Regions from separate parts of the Homo sapiens genome. Here regions 2 and 3 are each linked to region 1. The links come from fine-mapping of genetic effects on gene expression. A gene starts in region 1. Each other region holds a variant in brackets. All regions are shown on one strand. Distances are between the middles of the regions. Region 1 holds the start of NFX1 (nuclear transcription factor, X-box binding 1). Region 2 overlaps SPINK4 (serine peptidase inhibitor Kazal type 4). Region 3 overlaps NFX1 (nuclear transcription factor, X-box binding 1).

Evidence for each region.
Region 2: its variant is fine-mapped to the expression of NFX1 in whole blood (TOPMed, PIP above 0.99).
Region 3: its variant is fine-mapped to the expression of NFX1 in whole blood (TOPMed, PIP above 0.99).

The regions. Positions count from the first base shown.
Region 1 is chr9:33,289,311-33,292,072 of GRCh38, reverse strand. It overlaps NFX1 (nuclear transcription factor, X-box binding 1), which reads right to left and starts at 1,557. Exons shown (of 24, transcript NM_002504.6): 1 at 1,476-1,557. The coding sequence starts at 1,500. It also overlaps the pseudogene LOC100862682. RefSeq lists enhancers at 1,282-1,331, 313-1,512, 1,482-1,531, 1,542-1,961, 2,667-2,762.
Region 2 is chr9:33,247,992-33,250,753 of GRCh38, reverse strand. It overlaps SPINK4 (serine peptidase inhibitor Kazal type 4), which reads right to left. Exons shown (of 4, transcript NM_014471.3): 4 at 2,187-2,328. The coding sequence ends at 2,283. Among named protein-coding and RNA genes, the nearest start is that of SPINK4, 9.2 kb to the right of the region's middle. RefSeq lists an enhancer at 1,732-1,841. The variant C/G (reference allele first, on the strand shown) is at 1,388.
Region 3 is chr9:33,332,798-33,335,559 of GRCh38, reverse strand. The region is part of intron 11 of NFX1 (nuclear transcription factor, X-box binding 1); the gene reads right to left. Among named protein-coding and RNA genes, the nearest start is that of NFX1, 44 kb to the right of the region's middle. The variant T/C (reference allele first, on the strand shown) is at 1,552.

The sequences.
Region 1 (2,762 bases):
GCCTGTGGATGAGACGATCAATAGATCCAGTTTAGAGAATCTGGTGAAGGACTAGGTGAGGAGAATAACAAAATACCCAGCCCAAAAAGTTTTCCAACCCCAAGGAAGACTTAATATCCACATCAAGACTAGGGTACACCAATGCAGTGTGTTTTCCAACTTTTTTTTTTGAGACGAAGTCACACTCTGTCGCCCAGGCTGGAGTGCAGTGGCACGATCTTGGCTCACTGCAACTTCCGCCTCCAGGGTTCAAGCAATTCTCTTGCCTCAGCCTCCGGAGTAGCTGGGACTACAGGCGCGTGCCACCATGCCCAGCTAATTTTTTGTATTTTTAGTAGAGACGGGGTTTCACCGTGTTAGCCAGGATGGTCTCGATCTCCTGACCTCGTGATCCGTCCACCTCGGCCTCCCAAAGTGCTAGGATTACAGGCGTGAGCCACCACGCCCGGCCCTAACTTTTTAAACTAAGAACCATAGTAATAAATACATTTTACCTGCCACCCAGTATACAAATACATATATGGTCTTCTTGGTGCCCCAACGGCTGGTCAGGGACAGAGCTGAGATTCAAACCAATGGTTTCCAAACTCCATTCTGCAAACTGCTGCCCTGTTTTCCAGAGTGGGCCATAAAATCAAATGAAGGCAGTGGGCTGTGACATATTTTTAAACGAAACAGAAAACAGAATATATTGCTGATTGTAAAACAAACCAACCAACCTCACTGCTTCCAGAAACTTCTGGTTCGCTTTTATATTTATGTAAGTGTACAATATTTAAGGTCGCGATGCAAAATGTTTCTTTTGGTTGCTGTCCAACACATTTGGAAAACACTGATCTATGGAACACCCTGAGGAAATGGATGTTATATCAACGAACAAATGAGGCTGTCTCTACACACTGAGGCAACTCCAGGAGGGGGAGTGAGTGAACAATTACAGAATAGGTACAGTACAGGGCGGGAGCCATCACAGGAATTAACTTATCTACTCCCAACTGACAGATGAGGAGACTGAGACTGAGTCACACGGGGTTCGCAGCAGGCTGAGACTCTAAACTACTGGAATTCGGCTCGCGCCCACGCCACCACTCCAGGCGGTATGAGCACACCACACCCTACACGTCAAGAGCCCGCCACCGTCACTGGCTGTGACCTGGCCGACGCCCGCCTGTCGAAGGTCAGTGCGCCGCTGCCCCAGAAACAGCCTGTGGGAAGGCAGGGCACCCACATCGACTCGCAGCGCCGGGACAAGTCCTCTCTCCTCCGAAACCCAGCTACTGGGCTTCACCATCTAGTCCAAGAAGACACAGATCTTCGTACGCACGATGCGCGGGGCTTGGCCCTTCCGAGCCACTATCCTACGCCCTAGCATGTGCTACTCTCGCGATATGAGTGGCTGAGGCCCTAGAACTTCGTCACTGACCCAATTTCCGCTCCCTGAAAGGGGCCCAGTCCCGCTCGGGCCGGGACAATACCTGAGACAGGAGGCGCCTCCGCCATCCCGTGCCGCAGAACCTAGATCGAGCTGTACAGCCAAGTCAGCACTGTCACCAGGTCACGTGCCCCGGACTTCCGGCGCCGCGAGAATATTCGCATCTGCGCGCCGTGTAGACGGCCACAGAGGTTGCGCAGCCCGAATCTGTGTGGCGCGTTCGTGACGTCAGATAGACGCGCCAGGTGTCGGGCGGGAGGAGGAGACTAGTAGCTGGATGGAAATAGCAACAATCGCAGGAGGGAGGGCGGCGACTTGCGTAATCATTGTGGTTTTCCTTTTTTTATTTTTTGATATAGGGTCTTGCTGCCTTACCCAGGCTTGAGTGCAGTGGTCTGATCATGGCTCACTATAGCTTCAGTCTCTAATCCTCCCGCCTCAGCCTTCCGGTAGCTGGAACTACAGGCGGAGCCACCATGCGCAGCTATTTTTAGTAGAGACGGGTTTCGCCATGTTGCCCAGGCTAGTCTCTCCAACTCCTGGCCTCAAGCGATCCTGCCGCTTTGGCCTCCTAAAGTGCTTGGCTTACAGGCGAGCCACCACGCCTGGCTCCAGACTTTTTTTTTTTTTTTTTTTTTTACAAAGGCGTTTATTCTCATCAGTATCACCGATATTCTCATGGTTCACATTTGCCAACGCCGCTCCTCTCCTTACAGTAGTTAAATGTGCAATCTCACTTGGGGGCCCAGGGAGGGGTGGGGGCTCGGCCCAGGGTGGGGAGGGCGTTGGCACTTCACGTGGACAGGGTGGGCAGCCTGTCCTGCGTGAAAGAGGTGTGGGTGAGTGGGCGGCCAGGGAAGGGGAGTTGGCAGGGGAGGGCCCCGCAGTCTTTTTTTCTTTGGTGGTTGGTGATTCTCCATTCAGATTCCTTCCTGGCTTCCCAGGGTAGGGGAACCATGCAGCTCAGGGCAGGGCAGGGGAGGAAGAGAAGGAAAAAGCAGCAGGCCGCCCGGGGGGAAAGGTGGAGGGTGAACGGCAGGGCAAGGGGGAACGGGTGGCTCCTGAGGTAAGGCACAACCCTGTCTTTGGCTTTCCTGGTGAGGAGTTTCCTCCCCTGCACCCCCTGCCCGACGCTTCTCCCCACCCCCCCACCCCCCAGACCCACACACAGTCCCAGGAGCCAGGGGGCACCACCTCCTGGGGTCCCTGAAACAAGTGGGCTCTGCCACCCAAGCCAGTGCCGCAGGGGCTCGAGGAGGGACACCCGAGGAAAAGGCAGAGAGGGGCAGGCAGGGGCCTACCCAGGACAAGGGGGTGGGGGTGAGAAGAC
Region 2 (2,762 bases), 41 kb after region 1:
TGCCAGAGGGGAACTGCCTCTGTTTGCTTGTTTCTAATTTGAAAGATCCTGGGGAAGAATCTTTTGGCTAATCAGCAATGGCCAGGGCAGCAGGGTCTCATGCCACACATAAGGTCTTTAGGGGCCAACACTTAGGTTTTGGGGTAGTTCCCAGAGAGGGGGCCACAGAGTCCACATCTGTAAGTGGTAAATTAGGTATTCCTTCCAGGTGGTGCCTGGCACATTGTTCAGGCTTAATCTCTGATTCCTCAGATGATGAGTAGAAGCCTGGGAAGGAAGGGTCACTGATGAGATGCTTGGCTGGGCTATGCCACTTGGGTATAAGAGGGGTGTCCCACTTAGGGCAGAAACTTTTAGATGTCACCAATATCCACTTTCTCCTCCTACAAAAAGTGAACTAATTTTTAGTTTAATGCATGGCCAACCAGATAGACTGTATTTCTCAGTCTCCCTGCTCAGAAGGCCATGAGACTACATTTTAGCTAATGTGGTTTATACAGAGTGTGTATGTCTTAAGGGAAATGTCTTCAGAGGCAAGTGGCGTGCCCTTTCTCTCTGTGGCCTAGAATGCAGATGTGATGGCTGTGGTTGGAGTAGCTGTCTTGGACCTGAGGTAGAAACTGTGATGCGGATGGCAGAGTAACAAAATAGAGGAGCATGGAGTTGTCATACTACATAGGTCTATGTGTAGGAGAAATGAAGTTCTGGCTATAAGTCACTGTTATTTTGGGTTTTCTGCCTCTCACAGCCAAACTTAATCCTACATCATTCATATGCAGGTATGAAACAGGTATGAATCAGTCCCAGTAGAAGGCCTTATTCATAGATGGCCTCCTAGGCCTGCCACCTGCAAATCTATCAGCAACAATTCCTGCTCAGTGTTCCCATTCCAGTGGTCCAAGAGAAAGTAGCTTCCTGCCTTCCTGTGCCCATTCTCTCAGACATGTGTCTTCTACAGAGCATTTCCTGCCCTTTCTGCCCACTCTGCAGCAGGAATCAGAGTCTGTGTGAAACTGCTTTCACCTGCCCAGGCCTCTCTCCATACCCCTTTCTCCTGCCACCATTATCAAGAGGCTCTGCCTAGGGGCTTTGGCCAAAAGAGGAGGTATTCAACATATACCACAGGAGGGAGTCTCTGTCTATGGTGACAATTCTGAACACTGTGTGTCCCTGTGGGACATTGTGTGAGTGCATGTGTGCAGGACGTGCCTGGGGCTGTGTCTAATGTCAGAATATTTGACAACCAGTCAGAGCAGATGTTGACCAAAAGAGCAGAGCAGCATCTCGAAATCATCCCACAGTGCCAGGAATTAACCCCAGACTGTGGAAACCGAGAGACCCAGGTGTTTCCAGGGGACAATCTGGGTGGCTAGGGTATGGGGGGGCA[C/G]TCAAAGGGCTTGGGGCATCACCTGTTTTCGATTGTGAAAAACCTAGTTCAATGTTACAACAAGCAGTTCAGCTGTACTGTGTACACTGCCTGAATATCAGCCATTGCTGTGCCACGTGTCTGTGTGTACATGCCTTGGAGTGCTGGCACAACCCAGGAGGAAGCCATGGGGGGCACAGGATGACTCTCACAAAGCTTTTTTTTTTCTTTTTTGAGGCAGGGTTTCACTTTGTCACTCAGGCTGGAGTGCAGTGATGCGATCATGGGTCACTGCAGCCTCGACTTCCTGGGCTCAAGCAATCCCCTCCCACCTCAGCCTCCTGAATAGCTGGGACTACAGGTGCATGCCACCAAGCCTGGCTAATTAAAAAAAAAAAAAATTGTAAAGACAGTCTTGCTATGTTGCCCAGGCTGGCCTGAAGCAATCCTGCCACCCTCAGCCTCCCAAAGTGCTGGGATTATAGGTATGAGCTACTGTTCCTGATTTCACAGAGGCTTTCTGAGGCTGGGCCGTGCACCCCAGCAGTGGCAGAGGATACAGACCTCACCTAGGTTCTTGGCCTGAATGATAGTCCAGGCTGGGGCAGACAGGAGTACTAGGCAGCATCCTGGGGTCAGGGACTGGCCTCTCAGGCAGGCAGAAGATAACTGGGACCTCTGAGGGGACATGTGACAGGGTTGAGGAGCACCAGAGGGACGGAGAGAAGCTGGACATCAAATTCAGAGTAGAGGCGACAATGCAAGATCCACCTCCTATCCCCTCTGCAACCAGTGTCCCCAGAGACACTGACCACTTCACTCAGTTGGGCTGGATCTTTTATTTCATGTCATATCCTCTCCATGCCCACCACTGTTCTCCAGCTGACACTTCATGGCTTGAGGTGCTCCTGTGGGATCAGCATTTGCCATCTTTCATGATCTGGATGTCCTGTTTGGTTTTTCTAGGATCAAAGAAGACAGGCATGAGGCTACCTTCTCAGGAGCTGTAGTGTACCATTCAGGGACCTGGCACAGTCCATCCAGACATCCTGCTGAGCGTCGCCCACATATGCAGTGTATGGATACAGGGCAGATCCCAAGGGTCCATGGGCACATCCTTCTACAGCTTTTCCTTTTTTGTACACCCTTCCCCTGGGGGATTTTAGCTTCCTGGGGTTTCCACCACCAGCGCACGCTGATGGCTGCCAAATCTGTCTCCAGCTCGGACCTATGTCCTACCTGTTCATGCAGTTGTCCATATCCAGTGGGATGTCCTAGGGGCTCAACTGTCCACAAACATCACTGCCCCCCACAGAACTGGTACAGACCCCCAAACCACCCATCTCAGCCCATGAAACCACTGGCCACCCAAGCCCACAAATCAGAAACCAGTATG
Region 3 (2,762 bases), 43 kb before region 1:
ATATTTTTAAAATAAAATTTAAAAAAAGGTTGGGCACGGTGGCTCATGACTGTAATCCCAGCACTTTGGGAGGCTGAGGCAGGCGGATTACATGAGGCCAGGAGTTCGAGACCAGCCTGGGCAACATGGTGAAACCCCGTCTCTACTAAAAATACAAAAAAATTAGCCAGGCATGGTGGTGGGTGCCTGTAATTCCAGCTACTCAGGAGGCTAAGACAGGAGAATTGCTTGAGCCCAGGAGGTGGAGGTTGCAGTAAGCTGAGATTGCGCCACTGCACTCCAGCCTGGGCAACAAGAGCAAAACTCCGTCTCAAAAAAAAAAAAAAAAAAAAGAAAAAGAAAGATAAAATAGAGAAGAAGAAAAAATGTAAGACAGAGAAAATATTTTGGAACTAGATTGTGAAAGAACTAAGTGCCACTGAACTGTACATTTAAAATGGTTAATTATGTTATGTGAATTTCAACTAAAAAAAAAGTGGGCTAACCACTGAAGTATTTATGGGTGAAATGATATTTGAGATTTGTTTTCAAAGTACTTCAGCATAAATAAAATGTAGGGAAGGAGGGATGGATGAAAACGAGAGGTAAAATGTTGACAACTGATGATGACAGGTCATAGGTACGTGGGGATTCATTATACCAGTTTCTCCACTTTCACGTATGGTTGAAATTTTGCATCATAAAGTTATAAAAAGTGGGACAGGACGGTTCCTGCTTATTAATAATGGGGAAAAACTGGAGACAACCTAAATGACCACCAAAAGGGTCATGGTGAACTATGACAAGGCAGATCCACATATGGAATACTCTGCAAGAACAAGAGTTATGCATACTGACATGGAAATACGTCTTTGAGATATTAGTGAGGGAAAATAAGCTGCAGACAGTATCTTTAGTATAAGCCTAAATCTAGGGAAAAACAAAACTATGCTGGCATGTTTATACATCTGTATGAATAGGGAAAAAGATCTGAAACCCTAACTAACAAACTACTATTAGAGGGCAAATTTTCATCTTTCACTTCATATTTTTTTTTAAACTTCATAAGTGTATTAATTTTGTATTTTTTCAAATTATGTTTTTATTATTTTGTTTTATTGTTTTAGAGATAGGGTCTCGCTCTGTCACCAGGATAGAGTGCAATGGCACAATCACAGCTCACTGCAACCTCAAACTCCTGGACTCAAGCAATCCTCTGCCTCAGCCTCCCGAGTATCTAGGACTATGGGCACATGCCACTATGCCTGGCTAACTTTAAAAATTCTTTTGCAAAGACAGTGCCTCACTATGTTGCCCAGGCTGGTCTTGAACTCCTGGCTTTAAGTGATCCCCCAGCCCTGGCCTCCCAAAGCATAAGGATTACAGATGTGAGCCACTGCATCTGGCCCAAATTATGTTTTTCTTGTTTCTTTTTTGATACGGAGTCTCACTCTGTCGCCCAGGCTGGAGAGCAATGGTGTGATCTCAGTTCACTGCAACCTCTGTCTCCTGAGTTCAAGTGATTCTCCTGCCTCAGCCTCCTGAGTAGCTGGGATTACAGGGGTGCGCCAC[T/C]GTACTTGGCTAATTTTTGTATTTTTAGTAGAGATGGGGTTTCACCATGTTGGCTAGGCTGGCCTTGAACTCCTGACCTCAGGTGATCCGCCCACCTTGGCCTCCCAAAGTGCTGGGATTACAGGCATGAGCCACCAGGCTTGGACCCAAATTATGTTTTTAATAACCAAACTTTTTTTCCTTGATACAGATGGCACACTGAACCAAAAGTTTAAATACGGTTTTGAGGCAGATATTGCTGGGTACCTCCCAAACGGCCACTCTTCTCTTTCAGGCAAAGACAGCCTTAATTTTGTTCAGAAACTGGGAGCCAGTGTGCTCCTCAGTTCCAGGGGTGGATGTTGTGTACCTTTACCCACCATGGTAATTCCATTCACTTTGCTAGTTACAGGTTTAGGCAGAAGAATTGGACACAGTGTACTGAGAACCTTTCAGGACTGTTTTCCTTGCTCTTACATAGGAAGAGAACAACAACACTCTCTTCATGGATTTTGTTTAGATGTTGTTGGGCAGAGACCCAATGTGTGAAGCTGCAGCAGCTAACATACCCACGAGGAGAAAATCAAGAAAACCACAGAGAAGCCAAATTGAAGTCTTCAAAATCACTGAGCTAAAATTAACCAATCTCGGACTTGTTCTGCCTCCAGATATCCTATCAGGTGTGGCAGTAAACACCCTTATCGTAAAAGTCACTTTTTCTTGGGTTTTGTTACCTGCATCCAGAAGCTTCCTAACCAATACAGCTTTCTTTCTGACTACAGTAAGACCTTTTATTTTGCATATCCTTATCTTCCATCACTTTTCCAAAAAGGTTTTAAAATGGCTTCAACAACAGTATGTGTCGGTTATAAAAACAGGAATCGAGGCCGGTGTGGTGACTCATGCCTGTAATCCCAACACTTTGGGAGGCCGAGGCGGGTGGATCACTTGAGGTCAGGAGTTAGAGACCAGCCTGGCCAACACAGTGAAACCCCGTCTCTACCAAAAATACAAAAATCAGCCAGGTGTAGTGGTGGACACCTGTAATCCCAGCTACTTGGGAGGCTGAGGCAGGGGAATCACTTGAACCTGGGAGGTGGAGGTTGCAGTGAGCCGAGATCGCGCCACTGCACTCTGGCCTGCGAAACAGAGCGAGACTCCGTCTCAAAAGGAAAAAGAAAAAAAGTTCAAAGTATTTTACAGTGAACATCCATATGCCCATATCTAGATTC